2 linked regions of the Homo sapiens genome follow. The protein of the gene in region 1 interacts with the protein of each later gene in a biochemical or structural test. Each region holds a gene or a part of one and is shown in the gene's direction. Other genes may lie near its edges.

Region 1 (9,511 bases):
AGATTTGAGCTCTAGTGTGCGACCTTTTTCATAAAAGGGGAAGAGGTTTTTCCCTTTCACGGGAGAACGCTTTATTTGATACAAGGTAGAAGGCAGACTGAGTAAGGGCTTGAGTTTAGAAGGATACTCGGTGAGCAGCCCATGAAAATGTCTTACCTGCTTAATATTTTCATTCACCTACTTTGATGAATGAAGGGAAGAATTTCTGGCCAGCAATAAAACGATTCGTGTTTATTCAGCCCGTTCCATCACCTTGTGGCTCCCTACACACTGTGGGGGTAGGTGATGCATAGCCTTCCGTGGGCAGCGTTTCAGCAACTCAACCCGGCATTCGTGTCTTACTTTCGTCGTCACTTGTCACTCTAAAGCAGCCAGTGGGCAAGAAGGTTTATTTCAGAAGCCCCGAAGGGAGGCAGTGCTTTGAAAACCCCAGCAGAGTTTAAAATATTCAGGTTAGTCTCCCTCCCATTGCTTAGCTTTGGTGGGAATAAATTTTTAGGAGAGGCTTGTTACTTGGTGACTTCAGGTTCTAAGGCCTGAGCTGTGTGTGTGTGTGTGGTTTTTTTTTTTTTTTTTTTTTTTTTTTCCTAACCTGACATTTTTAGTGGACAGGATCTAGGTGGGTGCTGGTAGGCTCTCCTCTGGGTTGGGGAATGGTCCTGAAAGGGAGGAAGCAGAGAAAACAGCCCTCCACCTCCCCCGCCCCTCTTTCAGCCTTTGCAGCTGGCCACCTAGTGGTGGGACACGGTTGTGTATCTCAGGATTCGGGGGCTGGGAAAGTTTTCACTCTCGCTCCATTCTGAAATTATTTCTTGGGAAATCACTGGGTCTGATGGTACTGGAGCCTTGCAAGTTTCGCTGGTTCCTCCTGTTGCCCAGGGAATCTGCCCCCGACATTTGCTGCTGTAGATATTTGTTTGCCTGATAGATGCTTTTTTTCTTCCCTGAGCATTTGGTTGCTTCTTTTATAATGCTTTGCTTAGAGTGGGCAAAGTGATATCAATTCCACCCGCCCCCTCCAAATTGTTCTCCCCAGTATTTTTTCACCAACGTGAATTTACTGTCTGATATTGTTGTTCGTTAGGCCAACAAATTGGGTTTTTTTCCCAGAGCCTTGGAGAAGAGAGCTGCAGGCTGGAAGCTTGTGTGGAGTGACCGACTCCCATTGGGGCAGAATTACAGTGATTGAAAGTGCTCAAGAATGTGCCTTTCACTTTTTTTTTTCCTTTTAAAGGCTTTTTCAATTTTGCTGTGAGAGTTTGGTCGTCATCTCATGGTGAGAAAATAGCTCTTGATGATGCCTTGGAAATGGAGAGGGCCTGCGGAAGCAGGGAGAGACTGACACGTGAACAAGAAAAATTAATCATTTAATGGAAACCTCATTTACAATTTGCATCTCTCCCCTTCTTTCTCTCTTATGCCTAGAGGAAAGCCATGATTTTAAGTGCTTCCAGTTTCTTTTGGCTGGGCCTTTATTAGAGACTTGAGCCCATATATCCTAATTAGTGTGGACACTTTTAGAAATTAAAGCAATTTATGTTTCTCTTCTCAGTTCTCATATATTTGAATTTATTTTACTAAACTTAGTAGTTCTCCAAATAACCATATTATCTAAATATTCAGAAATGAAATCTTCAGTCAGTTTAGTGAAATATCTAATATAAAACAGTATATTAAAAAAATCTGAGTTGTTTAAAAGGTTTAAAAACACTTCTTAAAGATTCTTGTCAGTGGTTACAGATGAGAAATATAATTGGCAAATGTGAAATTTAATTTAGTTCACTTAACAAAATACACCGTAAGCAATTTAAAATTTGGCTTTCAAGTAAAAGTCACATTTGTCCCAAACAATAGAGAAACAGACCTTGAAGAAAGACAGGCACACTTTGAAAATGCTGTAAAATAATTTGTAGTTGTCCATGTTGGTGGGTAACACTGGGACCTATCTTTTCTTTTTGTTTTGCATTAAAGACAGATGGCTCCTAAATTCACTGTATCTTCAAAGTCTTACCGTAATAAGACATAATATAAAGTGGAAAGCATTAATGTAGCAATAAAATAGAAAGCCTGTAAGTGGATTAGAGTAAAATGATGGATTGTTAGTAATTAGAAAATATAGCAAGCAAGCTTCATGAACACTTGTGATAATTATTTTAAAATAAGAAAAGGTAGAGGTATGGGTTCAAGATTTTGAACCACGGAAATGTATTTTGGGGCCTGTTTATTTGTCCTGGGTCTCATGAGAAAACATCAACTCGATCACTCTTAGGAACTTTAGATTGCTCTCCTAAAAAGTGCTTAAGGAAAAAAAGAAAGAAGTTGAGACTGAATTCATGGCAATTTATGGGAATGAGCTAAGTGATTAAGCATTTCATGAAAAAGAGGCCCAGACTAACTCTATCTATTTATTTACATTTCAGAATCTCAGAAAATTGGCAGGCGACCTAATGTTGAAATAATAATGAGAAGGAGAGTTTGCTGAGTGCCTTTTGTGTGTTTCTTTTTGGTTTTATTGTTGCAGTAAAGGTTTTTGTGTTTTTCTCATCTTCTAGATCTGTTGCCTTTCTTCTGAGTGAACAGTGGTGAGAAAAAATTTTGCAAGGCCCCGCTTTTCCTTTCTTCACAGGCCAGCAGTAGCCATATCTGATCAAAAAAGATACCTGAAGGAATATTGATCACATTTTCCTGAGGCCCTAGCAAGCACAGGAATTGAGAAGTTAGGACTGGAACAACTTTGTCATTTGTCACAATTGCCAAACATTAGAATACACAGGAACCGTTTTTTCAGGTAACTCTGTGACTTGGCTGGATCTTCCTGATCATCAAGATTAGCACCTCGGGGCCTGGAAGAGGTTAGGGAGGGCAGGAAGAAGGAGTGAGCCAGCATCCAGCTCTGCGTGGGGCAGGCTATGGCGTGGACAGACTTAACATTCCACAGCACGGCTGAAAGCCCTGGACCTCTTTCCCTTGCACCCCTAATTCATGGTGATAAAACCAAAACATGGTGAATTAGGTTATTAGAACGTTGGAACATCTCTGAAGCTCAAAGCCCTCTTATGGCTATGTGAAGGCATACGTGGAGGCATACGTACTCCACCCTGAAGCTTCTCCTTCAATTTTAATGTTAATCTTACCAAGCGACAGCTTTCATCCTGGTTAAGGCAGCTCGGTGTGTGTAAAAGCAGCCTGGCCTGTTAAACACAATGCCGTTAAATCAAACTGCCTTTCTTTTTTTTTTTTTAAAGTTTCCTTTTCAGTACTGACAACTTGGAGGTAGAGAAACCAAAAGCAATGTTTTCAGAAGGCCTTTTGCTTTCTTAAAGATTTCAAACGATGATTGTAGTTAATCTGGCTGCCTGTTTGAAAAACCATCAGATAAATGCCCACAAGGCTCTCATCTTTCAGTAGCTTAGCTGCTGCTTGTCAGATTCTAAACTCCAAAGTGCTTGACTCTTCCAGTGCCCAAACTAATCCTTGTTTAAATTATGTCTTCAGAAGCTATAACTCTTATAGTGGCTTGCTAAATGATACCCTTTGGATCTGGGCTGAAGACTTCCAGAATGCCCAAGTGAATTTCAGGAGCGGGCTCAATGTTTAACCAAATTCACCTTTACCAAGGGCTATTCAATCCATATCTGGGATGTTTTAAATAAAACTATCCAGGACTGTGGGCAATATTCAAAGTTAATATTTGTTGCCAATATGTTTGGAGTGCAAGATAAAGCATTATAATGTCTAGACATTTTTGAAATAAAAAAGTCTTCTGGTTACCAAAAGGCATTATTGTCATAGGTCATGCAACTCAGAGGTGAAACTTGAGAAAACAGAAAGTGACTACCAACAGGTGACACATTGAGAAGATAATTAGGAATTTCCTCAATCATACAGCCCTCAGCACCCATTTCTCACATCAAAATAGAATGGTGGAGCCGAGTGCGGTGGCACAGCCTGTGGTCCCAGCTACTCTGGAGGCTGAGGAAGATCATTTGAGCCCAGGAGTACTGGTCTGGAGCGAACTATGCCTATTGGGTATCTGCAGTAAGCTCGGCATCAATATGGTGACCTTTCGGGAGTGGGGACCACCAAGTTGCCCAAGGAGGGGTGAACTGGCTTGGTGGGAAACAGAACAGGTAAAAACTCCATGCTGATCAGCAGTGGGACTGCATCTGTGCATAGCCACTGCCCTCCAGCCTGGGCAACACACAAGACCCTGTCTCTAAAAATAAATAAATAAATGAATGGAATAGAAGAGAATATTGAAGACAAGGGGATGAAGGCATGATTTTAAATGACTAAAATGGTCTGGGCATGGTGGCTCATGTCTGTAATCCCAGCACTTTGGGAGGCCGAGGCAGGCGGATCACCTGAGGTCAGGAGATTGAGATCAGCCTGGCCAACATGGTGAAATCCTGTCTCTACTAAAAATACAAAAATCAGCGGGGTGTGGTGGTGCCCGCATGTAATCCCAGCTACTCGGAAAGCTGAGGCAGGAGAATCACTTGAACCTGGGAGGTGGAGATTGCAGTGAGCCAGTATTGCACCACCGTACTCCGGACTGGGTGACAGAGTAAGACTCTGTTTCAAAAAAGAAAAATAAAAAATTAAAATGTATTATGGCCTTAAATAATAGGGTTGATTTCCACTTTAAAACATATCCTGTTATATTTCAGTGAAAATTTTTATTTAAAAATATTCTAAATATTGAAAAGATGTATTTTGGGGGGGCAGAGATAATGTCATTCCTTTTATTACCATCCAAAAACTGGAAGAAGCATTTCATTTTGTGAAAACTGTGCTGCTTTTAAAAGAGAAAGTCCTTACTTCCTGACTGGACCCTTCCCCCACCCCTGCTTCTCATTTTGAGGAAACCATTCTTGAATAGGCTTCTGAAAATCTTACAAGAGTAAAATTTATTTGTTCAGCATTTGGTTGTTGAAGGACCCAGTGCGGAGGTGACATTCGGGTGTCAGCCTCAGATAATACAATGTGAAATGACTGAAAAGATGCAATTGGGCACTGCCGTTCTCTTTTTACATGTTTTTTTGTTTGTTTTTTGTTTTGTTTTGAGACAGAGTCTGCTCTGTCGCGCAGGCTAGACTGCAGTGGCGCAGTCTGGGCTCACTGCAACCTCTGCCTCCCAGGTTCAAGCGATTCTCCTGCCTCAGCCTCCTGAGTAGCTGGGATTACAGGCGCCCACCATCAAGCCTGGCTAATTTTTGTATTTTTAGTAGAGGCGGGGTTTCGCCATGTTGGCCAGGCTGGTCTCAAACTCCTGGCCTCAGGTGATCTGCCTGCCTTGGCCTCTCAAAGTGCTGGGATTACAGGCATGAGCCACTGCACTCAGTCTCTTTTGATGTTTTTTAACTGATCAACTAGGTGTGAACAGAACTGGATTTTTTTCCCCGAAGAGCTGAGGCTGACTGGGGTGTGACCTCCTTAGCTGTGTAGACTGCATTGACTCTACTGTGCCTAGAATTTGGACAATGGCCTGAGGGACCAGTATGTGATTTAAGCATAATTAAAAGGTTATACTTGAGGGATAGACCTGAATCTGGAAGACAACTGCTAATTTTCTGGGGCACTGAGGGGTTTTTGTTTTGTTTTGTTTTTTGAGACAGGGTCTTGCTGTCACCCAGTCTGTAGTGCAGTGGTGCCATCTCAGCTCACTGCAACTTCGACCTCCTGGGCTCAAGTGATCCTCCCACCTCAGCCTCCTGAGTAGCTGGGACTATAGGCTCGTGCCAACATGCCTGGCTAATTTTTGTATTTTTTGTAGAGATGGGGTTTCGCCCTGTTGCCCAGGTTGGTCTCTAAACTCCTGGGCTCAAGCAATCCATCCACCTTGGCCTCCCAAAATGTTGGGACTACAGGTGTGAGCCACCACGCCCGGCCAACACTGTTTTTATGAAGGTCTGTTCCTAGAAATGGAAACCATTAAAAACAATGGCAAGAAGACCCTTTGGTTGAGGAATGACAAGATCCAAGAGGAAAACTGGTGTGCCATGGCGCCTTCCAGGCAGAGCAGGTGTTCAGGGCAGAGGCCTGGGCGGGTAGACGGGCTGCAGTTCTGGAGTGAAGACGGTGGAGGCTGCATTCTTTTCTGGCTTTCTGTTGGGATTGGCCTGGGTATGTCCTTTGACATAGCCTGTCACAGGGAATGACCGAAAAGATTAAAGGTACCTGTTCCTCTTCAGGGGCTCTGTTCAACGTAGTAGCCACTAGCTGTATGTTGTTATTTATACTTAAATTAATTAAAGTTAGGAATTATGTTCCTGAAGCATGCAAACCACATGTCTAGTGCTCAGTAGCCATGTGTGGCTAGTGGCCATTGTATTGGGCCATGCATATAGAACATTCCCATCATTGCAGAAAGCTCATCGGGACAGAGCTTCTCTAGAGGATTCTGTGCATTTAGTGAGTGTGATAACCCCATGACTTCTGACATGAAAAATTAGGGAAAATTAAAAGAAGCAGAGGGAGGCAGGGAGTTGGGGAGAGAGACAGTGTGGAGGAGGGGGAGAAGGAGAGATGAGAGGGGGAAATGGGTAGGAGAAGGAGAAAATAGGGAAGGGGGTGCGGAGAGTGAGGAAGAGACTGAGGAAGGGGAGGGGGCTGCACCATGGAGGAGGGGTGAAGGCAGGGGTTGGGAGTTGGGACTGACTCACCTAAGAGGAAATTCAGGTCAGGGACAATCATGGATGGTGGCGGGGGTGGAGGGGGTTAAGCTACCATATCCTCCCCCACCCCCTTTTTCAATATCTTGTTGGGAAATTTGCCTAAATTGAGCAACTGACTTTCCTGATTCAAATTAAGTGCATGATATAGATACATACAGAGCCCCATGTTCCTTCTTGAAATTCTTAATGTGGGGCTATTTTAAAGCAGTCATTTTATTTAAAAAAACAATTAAGTTGCATAAGTGCGGCAGATCTACAGAAAGAATAGAAAGAAACCTCCACAGGCAGGTGATCTAAAATGGGGGTGAAGACAGGCAAAACCATTTTAAGGGTTTTCATTTTTTCTGAGCTGGGAAGACATCAGGAAGAAGGTATACTTAAAGATGCCAAAGAAACTCACTGTTCTTGTATCCACTTGAAAATGGTTTTCTCCTTAAAAACTGTTTCTTGTGAGATTTGAAACATTTTAACAATAACTCAGAGCACACTTAGAAAGAAAGTGTTTGAAACAATAAAACAGTTCATTGCTTGTTCCCTGGTGTCCGAAGCAAGGGAGTCTATCTGACGTACCAGAGTCAACTGGTGACATCCTCCTAAACTAGGCCAGTTTTGATAGGGCCTACTGTGTTTCTAAGAACTTGTAATCTGTGGAATATCAAAAATTTTTTTAAAAAGGTAATGATGAAATGAACCCCAAGGACAGCTTCTGGGGCCTGTGCAGAAAGCAAGGGTAAACAGATAAGCTGAGATAAACAGATAAGAACATGCCTCTGTCCTGAAGTGGCAGAGGCCACAGGGCCACTGGTGCCTCGGCTTCCCTGAGCCTTCTCAGCTGATCTGCTGCCCTGTCCTCTGTTTCCGGCATAGAGGTTACCCTTGGTTTAACGGATGGGGAAACTGAGATGAAAGAAAGGGAGTCAGGGCCGGGTGCAGTGGCTCACGCCTGTAATCCCAGCATTTTGGGAGGCTGAGGCAGGAGGATTGCTTGAGGCCAGGAGTTCAAGACCAGCGTGGGCAGCATAGCAAGACCCCTATCTCTACAAAAAATAAAAAATAAATAAAAATGGCCAGGCGTGGTGGCTCACGCCTGTAATCCCAGCACTTTGGGAGGCCAAGGTGTGTGGATCACTTGCGGTCAGGAGTTCAAGATCAGCCTGACCACCGTGGTGAAAACCCATCTCTACTAAAAATACAAAATTACCTGGATGTGGTGGTGGGTGCCTATAATAATCCCAGCTACTTGGGAGACTGAGGCAGGAGAATTGTTTGAACCTGGGAGTGCCACTGCACTCCAGCCTGGGTAACAGCGAAACTCCGTCTAAAAGGTAAAATAATAATTTAAAAAAAAACATAAAAATAAAAAAAGGGAGTCACTTGTTCAAGGTCACTTGAACTGTGGACTTTTGGGGAGCAATTGCAAGTGGATCTCCCCTATCCTCCAAAGTGCTTTTATGTTCCAAAATAAATCTTTCTTCCTTCCTCTCATAATATATGCCAAAACAACAAACTCTTCTCGAGATGGTAGGGTTTTTAAGTGTAAATACCCATGAGGTTGTAATTGTGGAAGAGAAAGAGTGTCTTTGTCAGATTCCCTGGGAAAAGGGGCAAATTGGGAATATAATTTCTGTCTCAGACCGTGATTTCAGCTGAGGGCCAGTTTGAGAGCAGTTGGGTAAATTAATTCCTACTAGGTTGTAAATGACTGATAGGTGAATCCTCAAAGTAGATGTTTCCATTTTAAAAGTAGAACTGTGTATCAATACAACTGAATCTGTGTTTGAGGACAAGGCAGGATGCCTACATGCCATACATAAGTGCCTGTACACACATAAGCACATGTGTACGTATGTGGTATGATCGCCTGTGGAGGCCCATTACCTGTACTCTCTCGCTGCCTGGGCCCCTCCTACCAACACATCGGACAAGCGAGGCCAGCCTCTTGCGTTATTTTTCCCCTCAGCATGGCTAGTGGCCAACGAATTGCCCCCAAGGGACTGGATGTGAAGCCCCATGGGTGGTGGTGGTGGGGACAGTCATGGGAGTTTAGGTGTGGGCCACATCATTGGCAGCAGCACCACCTCCTTTCCTTGGCAGAGGCAAGAGGTGGGCAGCGGGCATGCCAGTTCCTGCTGGCTCACCACACATAGCTCCCATCTGCCCTGCACCCTGCTTCCCTGGCCGCTTACTGCTCCTTAGGAGGTTCTCGCCCTCAGTTACCTCTGCCTGACAGTGGTACCTTATGTGCAGGCTCAGGTTTCTGCAGCTCTCTTTACTTACTACCCAAGTAGGGGGTTAGAGAGGGGGAGGCGAGGAGGGTTTTTCTTGCAGATTGCAGGGCATCCCCACCCCCTCACCAAAGAGAGGGTATGAAGTGGCCTTTTCCCCCAGAAAAGCTCTCTCCGGATGACCCCTTGCCATTTTTCAGTGGTAACCTTGAGTGTTTGCATTTAGAAACCATGTCAACCCGTTTGTGTGTGTGTGTGTGTGTGTGTGTGTGTTGCGTTAATGTTGCAACTCTGCTTTTCAGGGGGCTTTGTGAGGCAAGGGAGTGTATAAGAGCCATGCACTTCCTTGGGGGTCCACAGTCAGACTTGAGATCCTGGTGGGAAGGCAGCCTGGTGTCGCTCCCTGATGATGAGGGTACAGGAAGCCATGCTTTTGATCTGCTCCTGCAGAGAAGGTGTAGCTCTAAACTTACCCACTCCAGGAAGGGAAGGGGAGGGGGTAGGAGATAGAATTACCCAACTGCTGGATGGAGAGAACCCAGCCAATGTAATTGCTCTGCAAGTCTGATAAAAAGTCTTGTGAAACCTCATTTGAAAATGGAATTCCAT
Region 2 (10,236 bases), about 32 Mb from region 1:
AAGGGTCTACGTTCAGTGGTTCCATGTATTGTCTTGATAAACATCTTAACAGAAAACAGGGTTTGAGAGCAGAGAACCAGTTTGATCTCAAATTTACCAGGGCTGGGGTTTCTCAATCCTGGTAAGCCTGAGGGTACTGCAGGAGACCAGGGCATATCTCAGTCCTTATCACAACCGCATAGGACAGACACTCCCAGAGCGGCCGTTTATAGACCTCCCCGCAGGAATGTAATTCTTTTCCTAGGGTCTTAATATTATATTCCTTGCTAGGAAAAGAATTTAGCGATATCTCTCCTACTTGCATATCCGTTTATAGGCTCTCTGCAAGAAGAAAAATATGGCTCCTTTTGCCCGACCCCGCAGGCAGTTAGACCTTATGGTTGTCTTCCCTTGTTCCCTAAAATCGCTGTTATTCTGTTCATTTTCAAGGTGCACTGATATCATATTATTAAAACACACGTTTTACAATCAATTTGTACAGTTAACGCAAAATCACAGGGTCCTGAGGTGATGTACATCCTCAGCTTATGAAGATAACAGGATTAAGAGATTAAAGCAAGACAGGCATAAGAAATTATGAGTATTATTAGGGAAGTGATAAATGTCCATATTAAAATGAAATCTTCACAATTTATGTTCAGAGATTGCAGTAAAGACAGGTGTAAGAAATTATAAGAGTATTAATTTTGGGAACTGATATATGCCCATATTAAAATGAAATCTTCACAATTTATGTTCCTCTGCCGCGGCTCCAGCCTGTCCCTCCGTTCAGGGTCCCTGACTTCCCGCAACAGCTCAGCCCTAGGGAAAAATCTCTCTTAGACCAGTGGTTCTCAATGGGAGGAGAGGGTACTTTCCCCAGGTGCATTGTCACGACTGGGTGGTGGGTGCTACTCATGACTAGGTATCTCATGGGTGGGGCCCAAAGATGCTGCCAAATACCCTACAATGCATAGGACATCTCCACACCCCACCACAAGGAATTATCTAGTCCAAAATGTCAGTATGCCAGGGCTGAGAAACTCTCTCTAAACAAACTTCCATTCCTTGCAAACCTCTGACCTACTGCAGAGGGCCTGGAAGGCGTGTGCCCCAGGCACGCCTGGCCTGGTCCAGCCTGCCAGGAGTGACTGGGACTTTCCACCTCAAGCTCCTGGAAGTGGAAACTATGCCGCCCACCCTTCCTGCCCAGGAACTTTCTCCGCTGACCTGCCCAGACCCTGGGCTTCAGCACTGCTATTCTCTCTGCCCATGCTCCCCACCCTGGGCAGGCCCTCCCTTGGCACAGTACAGGCTGCTGGCCCAGAACCCTGGGAACATTCCTGACCTTTGCTTTGGCTTCCTCCAGCTCTTGGCAGCTTCTGGCTGGCCCTTGATGCCCATGCCCCCGGCCCAACTTGCTGAAGTGCCCATTTTTCCCTCTGCCCCTCCGTCTCAGGCTGGCTTCATCTTTGTGCCCTCCCTTGGGGAGTCCTGCTGGGTGCCCTCATCTCCCAGTGGCCAACCCAGAGTGGATGTGGGGCTCCTCTGGCCTGGTTTGGAGCTGCCCTTGGTCTGCTGTGGCCCCAACCTGCTGCTCCACCCAGATAGGAGGGTACGTGGACTCCTTTGGAGCTTTAAATGGAAGCTGGGCGGCCTGCGTTCTCCTCTCCTCCTCCTCCCTGAACCCACAGTGACCTTGGGCAAGGCCCTTCCCCCATCATCGAAATGCGAAGAAGCTGTGCCTCTGCGGCACACAGATCAGAGCTGGTGTGGGGGGAAGGGAGAGGGAGCCTGTGGGAGGGGGAGGGCGCATCCATTATGCAGATTGTGTGGAGTGCCTTCCCTTCCCCAGCCAGGAAACGCCCTCCCAGGGGCCCTCAAGTCTTCCTTGGGAAGGAAGGCGTGTTCTCAGCAGCCTTGTTTTCTGAGGCCCTGAAGCCAGCCATTAACTTGACCATTCCAGGGGAGAAACTCACAGGATTTTGTCCTTGAGTCAGAAAAGGGCCTTGGCAGAGAAGCCTGAGGCTCTCAGGGATCAGCCCAGAGCTAAGAACCCCTGAGCGTGGTTCTGGAAGCTTCAGCTCTGGCCAGTGGGGGTTCTTCCCTGTTCATACCAAGGGCTCTGTGCCCGGCAGGGGTCGGGGGTGGGGGTGAGGATGGGGGAGGAACAAGTGCAAAAGGTGCATCGTGGCCCAGAGAAGGCGGCCTGTGCTCTGCCCTGCTCCTGTGTGACCTCCAGTCATATGCTGGACTCCTCTGGGCCACAAGCTCCCAGCTGGGAAAATCTCAGTGCTCTTTGTGTAAGGGTCAGGAGAAGCCTGAGGCTGGTGACTGGGGCCAACCAGCCTGCTGGCAGCAGCATCCCCTACACGGCCACCCTCTTGGGGGGACAGGACAGCCTGGGTGGGCCTGGGCTCTCACTGTCACTTAGGAGCTCTGTGGCCCTGGGAGGCGTCCCCACCCCTCCAAGCTATCATAGCAATGTGATAGATGGGACACCTTGCCTGGGGCTCAGCACGGTCCCTACCGCAGACTGAGTTCCACTGGGACAGCAAATCCTGGGTCTGAGGCACCCACATTCTAGACATCCCCAAGCCAGGGCACAGAAACAGCCTCTTCCTCCCGGAGTCCTAATGCTCAGGCTGCTGGCTCCCTGGGCTGGGCCCCTCGGGGTCCCTGGCAACCTAAGAAGCAGTTAACCCCTTCGCTTCTCCACCTCAGGGAAGTCTGAGGACGTAGTGGTTCTATTCAAGCTTCTCCTTGCAAAGGGTCTTATTGGGGCCTGCATCCTGGGCCCAGCCTAGCCCTGGGGCTCTGGAAACAGATGTAAGTGGCAAAGGCAGGGCAGAATGCCTGGCCCTGGCAGCCGAGCCTCCTTGTGATGGTGTTGGTGTCACCACCCCTGCTAGCAGAACCCAGTCTGCCTCCCCTTCCCATGCTGCAGGGACAGGGTCTGGAGCACGCTTCCACCTCCCTGGTCACAGGAGCAAGGGAAGTAATCAGCCCAGGAAGCCGCGCGTTTCCTTCCTTTCTCACCAGCCCATCCGGGTTTGGTGAGAGAGCATGGACTTGCCCTGTGGAGACTGCAGCTTCTGGATGTGGGAAGGAGAGCCCTGCAGGCAGGGGGCTTCCAGGCTTGGGACACCTGGGCATTCCTGGGCCAGGTACATGCACCCTCCCACTCAGAACCCCAGAGAAGGACTGCGGGGCCCCTGCAGGGCTGCCCATCAGCAGTTCCCAAACCCTCACTCCTTGGGGCTAAGGGAGCAATGTCTCTCCCACAACCAAGGGGGTGGGGAGGAAGAGGAGCAGCTCCCTCCTCCCTCCCGTCCACCGGGTCCTCTCATCCTCCCTTTCATCAAAAGGCGGAAGGTGGCCTGAGACTAAGGCGTGGAGCTTCCTTGGTCCTGAAATCAGAGCGGAGTGGCTGGATCCAGCCCGCCCCTCCCCCGCCCCCTGCTCCCCTTGCCGCCCCACCACCGAGAATCACCTGCACCTCCCAGCCCTGAGCAGAGTTGGGGGCAGGCGGGAATGAGGTTTCTCCATGGCCAACTGCTCAGCCACTGTTCCCCACGCCACTGCCACCAGACCCTCACTAAGGGGCCTCTTGCCCCTCCCTGGTCAAATCTGTTTTCAGGAAAGCACCCAACAAACCTGCAACTCAGAAGCCAAATGAGACCTATCCCAGGCAGGTCCGCTCTGCGATGGTGGCTCTCATACACCGCACAGAAGTGTAAGTTGGCCCCCCCCTCACTCCCTAAATCCATGTAGATGCCCTTAGCCAAACAGGTCTGGTGTGTGGGGGCAGGAGGGTGGAGGTAGGAGCATCTGGGGGCTGGGGCTGGCTCCAAGTGCTGCAGAGAGTTCACTATGAGCTCTGAAGTCAAACTCAGATCCTGCTCCTTAGCTGTGTGGCCTTGGGCAAGCCCCTCAGCCTCTCTGAGCCTCAGGCTCCTCCTCTGTAAGTGGGGCTGTTGGAGGGATGAACTGAGATACACGTGGCAAGGTGCCTGGCCCTGAGACTGGGGGCCCCGTAAACAGCACCTGCTGCTCTGACTGAGGGGCAGTTGGAGATGAGGGGGGACTTACAGGCCCAACACCTCATCAGCAGGATGGGCCCTGGCTCTGTACACATAGAATGTTGGAAAGCTATGTTCTGGGTCCAGTTGCAAGACCATCCTGCCCACTTGCTGGGTCGCTGAGGCAGAGCGCCCTGGACTGTGCTCTGGAGAGCAGGGGGCCGTCTCTGCTCACTGCTGGGCAGTCAGAGTCAGGTCCCCAGGGAACTCAGATCAAAATCTCAGGGCAGCCTTGCTGGGTCTCAGCTTTCAGAATTGATTTCTTTGGAAGAACAGGAGGCATAGCCAGGCCAGCTGGCAATGGCTTCAGCCACAGTCCCCCAGTGCCCCATGCTGGGTGATTGATGGTAGGAGCTGTGCCTCCCTGCCAGCCCCCCAAGCCCCATTCCCTGCCATGGCTCCGACAGGGAACTCCCTGCAATTCTTAGGTGGATCCTGAAACACCCAGTCCAGACTACTTTTTCAGCCTCACAGATGGCCCAGAGATAGATACTATTAGCCCATTTCACAGATGGGACCCCAGTGAGGTCTAGAGAGGCTCTGCTCTAGCTGAGCTGGGACTCAGATCCTACTCCATGACCTCTGCCAAGGTCCAGGCCCTCTTACCGTCCTACGGGGTCCTTGCCGGTGTCCTCAGCCTCTGCCTTCCAGACCCCAGGTGTCCTGGAGCTCTGCAGATCAGAGAGGCTAGTACTGGAAGCCTGGGCCCATGCCCCCAGCAGCCCCCAGCCCAGGGGGCCCCCAAGGCTGAACAGCAAGCTCAGGATCATCTTGGTGGTGGGGCAGGCTCAGCTCACACTCAGCCTTGGCAAGTAGCTCCAGAAACTGCTAGTGACGTTGTCTTCAAGTTAAATCTCAGGAGGAAAAGAAAATACGAGGACAACAAAGAGAGGAAGTGGCCTGGGCCGGCCTACCCGGTGGGTCTTGTCCTGCCCCCCAACTACCCTGGCTGGCCCCACAGGGGCCGCCAACCACACAAGCCAGTTCCTGTCCCTGAGGACTTGGCTCAGGGACTCTGGGAATGTGGTAGACATGGGGTGGCCCCACCAAATGCATCCTTATGGGAACCTGCTCCCTGGGAGCCATGAAAAGAGCGTGGACTTCGAGGTGGGGCCACAGGAAGTGGTCAGGTCCATCTCAGGGGACCTGCTGCCCATCCACACTGCTGGCCAGGAAATGGGGGGCAATTCATGCCTCCTCAGCACCTTCAGCACTGGGCGGCTCAAAGAAGGGAAGGGACTATTCTGGGGTCACACAGCATGCAGCCAGAGGCCAAGGCATGAGGAAGTCCTTCATTTCCCCACCCCCACCCACCTCAGATCCTCCAACCGGTTTCATGGCAGCCCAGGGTCCAGCGGCATCCAGGATGCTGGTGGGTAGCTGCACAGCCCAGGCCGCGGGAGGTTGGCTGCTCTCACCTAACAGGCCTATGTGGCCCTGACCCCTACCTAGGAAGCTGGGGACAATGGCCAAGGCGCCTCCCCTCTCTGTGCCTGTCTGTCCAGGTGCAGCATAGACACAGCACCCCTGGGGCCAAGAGCACCCAGCCAGGGCTGCCCCCATGGGTGGGCAGGGCAGTAAATGAATGAGGGACAGGTTGGGAGGTGGCCAGCCCCCTCCAGCCCATGGAGGGCACGGGGCAGGAGAGCTGGGCTGAGCCAGCAGGAGCCCAGGGAGCCTGGTCTCTGCCTTCCTATCCTGGAGGAAGGTGAGGCTGAACCTCCTTCCCTCCCTCCCTCCCTCCCCGCCCCCACTGCACGCAGGGCTGGCTGGGCTCCAGCTGGCCTCCGCATCAATATTTCATCGGCGTCAATAGGAGGCATCGGGGACAGCCGCTGCGGCAGCACTCGAGCCAGCTCAAGCCCGCAGCTCGCAGGGAGATCCAGCTCCGTCCTGCCTGCAGCAGCACAACCCTGCACACCCACCATGGATGTCTTCAAGAAGGGCTTCTCCATCGCCAAGGAGGGCGTGGTGGGTGCGGTGGAAAAGACCAAGCAGGGGGTGACGGAAGCAGCTGAGAAGACCAAGGAGGGGGTCATGTATGTGGGTAAGTGGGGCATGGCAGGGTGGGACAGTGTGGTGGCCAAAGGGTGAGTGCCCAGTTACCTTCGCCAGACCTTACTCCCCAGCCCCAGGGAGGCATTTTGGGAGGGGGCGAGGCCCTGGCTATCAAGGTGGGGTCTCCAGACCCTGGAGCACCCACAATGCCCTGTGCACACCTATGTGTGTTTGTCTTTGGCCTCCTCGGGGCCTCTGGGTGTCAGAGACCGCAGACAGGGCTGGCTACCTGTCTGTGCACGCACACACACATTCCCAAGCATACCAGCCTCCCCTGAGCCTGGAGCCCCTGAAGCCATGAGCAGCCTGTGCTCAGGTGGCCCCCACCCTCTCCACACGGGAGCGGCTACAGCCAGGTCACGGATCCCCTCCCTCCCCAGAGAGAAGGGGCAGGCTGGGGGATGAAACCTAGGCTCAGTGTTCCCTCCCCCGCATCCTCTCCTGGCACTCTCCAGAGGAGGAAGGGGAGGTCAAGCCAATGACTCAGCTCTGGCCCATCCTGTCCTGTTGCTGCTTCTGAGGCCCGGCCACACCCGGGCAGGGGCTGGACCCTGGGTCTAGCCAGTGTCCCTACCTCAGGCCTGCTCTCTCTTGTCCCCCACATTCTGTCCTGTCCCCTTCCCATCCATCCACTTCTTCCAGACACAGCAGGAAGAGGCCCTCTGAAGGGGCCGCCGGCCCCCAGACACCATCCTTACCCCCCCACCGACCCCACAGTTTGTCCAGCTGTTCTGTTGTGTTTGTCCTGACCGCCCCCAACACCTCGAGGGAGGTCTGGGCTGACAGCTCCATTTCCTCCCCAGGAGCCAAGACCAAGGAGAATGTTGTACAGAGCGTGACCTCAGGTGAGAAGCCCCAGGGCCAGGGGACACATGGGGGATAGGACCCCTGGGGCTCCTGCATCCTAGTGCTGGGGCTCAAACCTAGAGTCCTGCCTTACCCCCAACTGGGGTCCCAAGCCCTACAGACCCCTGCAGACCATGAGGCTAAACTAGGGTGGGCGTCTCCTTACCCCCACCAGCATCAGAGGTGCCCTGGAGTCAGAGGGAGCAGGGGAGGGTCCCAGCAGGGCCAGGGCTCTGAGCTCCTGGGAAGGGGCTGCGAGCCTGACTCCAGCAGGCCTGCCTTGGGGCTGGGGCTGGGGTGGAGGCCAGCCAGTGTCCTCCCATAGTGGCCGAGAAGACCAAGGAGCAGGCCAACGCCGTGAGCGAGGCTGTGGTGAGCAGCGTCAACACTGTGGCCACCAAGACCGTGGAGGAGGCGGAGAACATCGCGGTCACCTCCGGGGTGGTGCGCAAGGTGAGCCCCGGCCCTCAGACCTGCCCAGTCCTCTCCTGGGCCCAGAAAGGCTGCTGGGCGGAGGCGGCATCACTCCACTCCACACCCCAGGAAACAACACGGGGGGCTGCGGCTGGCTTCAGTTTCAGTACCCACTGAGCGCCGGCATGGGGTGGGGTCCATGCTTGCTGTTCGACCTGCATTCGGGTCTGGAATCACCACAACCACCCCTTCGGGGGACTTGGGAGCCCATCTCATAGACAAGGAAAGTGAGGCTCAAAACCACATCTTCCGGACGGCTCTCAGCACTTAGGAGACACCCCATTTTATAAGTGAAAACAGGATCCCACACGGTGACAGGCAGCCTCCCGGGCAGTGGTCACCAGGCCGGGGGCTGAGTAGCACCAGCCCCGCCCCCAGGGCCTAGCCTCCCTCCCTGGGCTGGGCGGGGCAGCTGCCTCCTGCTGGGAGCCTCAGGGAAGTAGCGTCCCCTAGTGGTAAGAAAGCAGTGCTGCTTCTGACCCTACCCTCTGCAGCTGCCTTTGTGTGTGTGTGCACGTGTGTTGAGTGAGCATGTGGGTGCATTTGTGAGAATGTGTGGGTGTACATGCGTGTGAATGTACACATGCGTGTGCGGCCCAATAGCAGACAGCACAGGAGCAGTGGGGCGCACCCCAGGGACGGGTGTTGGCTGGGTGAGCTGTCCCAGCACCTGTGACACAGCAAGCTCTGCTTTACGCATTGTACGCTTATTAGTTCATTTAATAGACACAAAATCCATGAGACGGTGTGGAAACTAAGGCCCAGAGAGATTAATGTGCCCAAGGTCCCATGGCTAGTTCATGTGAGCTTGGAATTCCCCTGAGCAGCCTGTACTCTGAGAGACCCTGTGGCAGTGTAAGTGGTGGCCTGGGCTAGGATTCCTACCTGGGGGTGGGGCGGGGGAGCAGTGTCCAGCTCTCCTACCTGCTCCAGGCCTCCTAGGTGGTGGAGTCTGAGGCTCTGAGCACTGAGAATCCCTGCGTTAGGAGTGGGTGGGTGGAAGGGTGGGGGCTGCCCTACTCCTCTTGGCTCTGGGGCGATGCCCAGGTGTCTGCTTCCAGGGCCAGCACAGGGTCTCCATGTCCTTGGAGCTGGCAGCCGCTCCCTCTCCTAGTTCCCCTTTCTCGTCGTATGACCTTGAGAAGCAAAGGAACCTCTCTGGGCCTCCGTGTTCTCATCTGCAAGATGGGGGTGAGAGTGTCGGCCTCCCTGGGCTGTGTGATGAGGCAGGGCCATGACCTCCATGAAGCAATTCTCCTGGTCTATGTGAGCACCCAGCAGAGGAAGGTGACCATCATCATCATCATCATCATGTGTCCCAGGCAGAACACATAGAGCCCCAGGGGGCTCCTCCCTCCTCACCCCCAGCAAAAGAGGCCCTGGGGTGAGGGTGCCCGGGCATTCCTTGTGAATCCCGGAGCAGGGCTAGTGAGCCCTTGGAGCCACCTCGAGGGAGACTCATTTCCTGGTGACACCCCAAAACCAGTCACGACTCATCTCCCAGTGAACTGTGAAAGGCCTCAGCAGGGACTATCTGACCACTCATACCCCTGGCCTCATCATCAGCCTTAGGGCAGCAGGACTCAGCAGGTGGCCACCTGCCCTGCCCCTGGATAGCCTGGCCGACTCCCGCCAGCACAGCACTGCCCTTTTATGCCCCACTCCGCCAAGGGGCAGGATGGCCCTGGGGCAACACAGAGGTGACAGTATCCCCGCCTCCCCCCCGTCCCCCGCCAGAGGCAGGTGCTGAGGCCAGAGTGCAGGGCAATCACCAGTGTGGTCCTACACACCCAGCTGTCATGATATCTCACGCAAGTGTCTGGCCGGCATGGAGTGCAGGAGATAGAAGATGGGAAGTGAGAGAGGACTGTGTAACCTCTGCTGGCCCTGACCAGCCTGAGCCCAGAGCCTGTCCAGGAGGCAAAGAGAGGGAGCCATGCTCCTGTGGACTGAAGTGGGCCTGAAGCAAGCCTGATCTGATGCCAACACACCCCACCACTTTGAGCTCGAAGGCCCTGAGCTGCATGCCAAGCCTCCCTGGCCTCAGAGTCCCTATGTGAACCCCAATCAGTCTTCCTTGTAGGGCTACTGAGGGTGGGGTCAGACCTGGGGCTTCAGGGGCCTCTGCCCACTCTAACCCCCACTCCACCCTACCCCACCCAGGTTCCTCATCAGTGAAGCCCAACTAGGGGCTTCCCAGAGACTGGGGACCAGCTTGAGGGGTGAAGCTGGGCTCCAGGGTACTTGGTGCCCCTGGAAGGCCTCGGCATCATCAGAGCCCCGGGTATTGTCTGAATTGCACGCCCCCAATACCTCCAGCCCCTCCAAGTACAACAAGGCCACGAGGGGCCTCTGCTCCTCCTTGAGGCCAGGGTAGACAAGGCCCTGGTTGCAGGGCAGCTAGGGGTCTCTGCATTCTCCACATGGTCTCATGCCCCCTTTTGTCCCCTACAGGAGGACTTGAGGCCATCTGCCCCCCAACAGGAGGGTGAGGCATCCAAAGAGAAAGAGGAAGTGGCAGAGGAGGTAGGAGCTGGGCTCCTGGGGTGCACCATGGGGGGTTCCTTGGTAGGGACCCCATCCCCCACAGACGCACTGCTTCCCTCCTGGGCTCCCAGGGCCCAGAGGGGCCTCCTGACCTTCCACAGCCCCTACAGGGACTGTGTACAGGGCTAACCCTGAACCTGAGTGGGAGGTCCCCCCACGGATGACCCCTCAGGCATGGGGCACAGAAGACAACTTTTCTCAGCCCACTCAGGGTGGCCCATTAAGGCTGGGGCCTGGAGCTGGGTGTGCA

What was found.
Region 2: of the proteins of GRK5 (region 1) and SNCG, one has a biochemical effect on the other in vitro, tested with the Homo sapiens proteins (one study listed by BioGRID).

What each region holds. Positions count from the first base shown.
Region 1 is NC_000010.11:119,208,929-119,218,439, forward strand, and holds part of GRK5 (G protein-coupled receptor kinase 5), read left to right. Parts: intron 1-2,552; exon of another isoform or gene 2,553-3,776; intron 3,777-9,511. UniProt on the Homo sapiens protein: Serine/threonine kinase that phosphorylates preferentially the activated forms of a variety of G-protein-coupled receptors (GPCRs).
Region 2 is NC_000010.11:86,952,711-86,962,946, forward strand, and holds the start of SNCG (gamma-synuclein), read left to right. Parts: upstream 1-5,987; coding exon 5,988-6,108; intron 6,109-6,922; coding exon 6,923-6,964; intron 6,965-7,238; coding exon of another isoform or gene 7,239-7,290; coding exon 7,291-7,418; intron 7,419-9,893; coding exon 9,894-9,965; intron 9,966-10,236. Other genes in the region: MMRN2 (multimerin-2 precursor), read right to left, coding at 4,668-4,831. UniProt on the Homo sapiens protein: Plays a role in neurofilament network integrity. May be involved in modulating axonal architecture during development and in the adult. In vitro, increases the susceptibility of neurofilament-H to calcium-dependent proteases.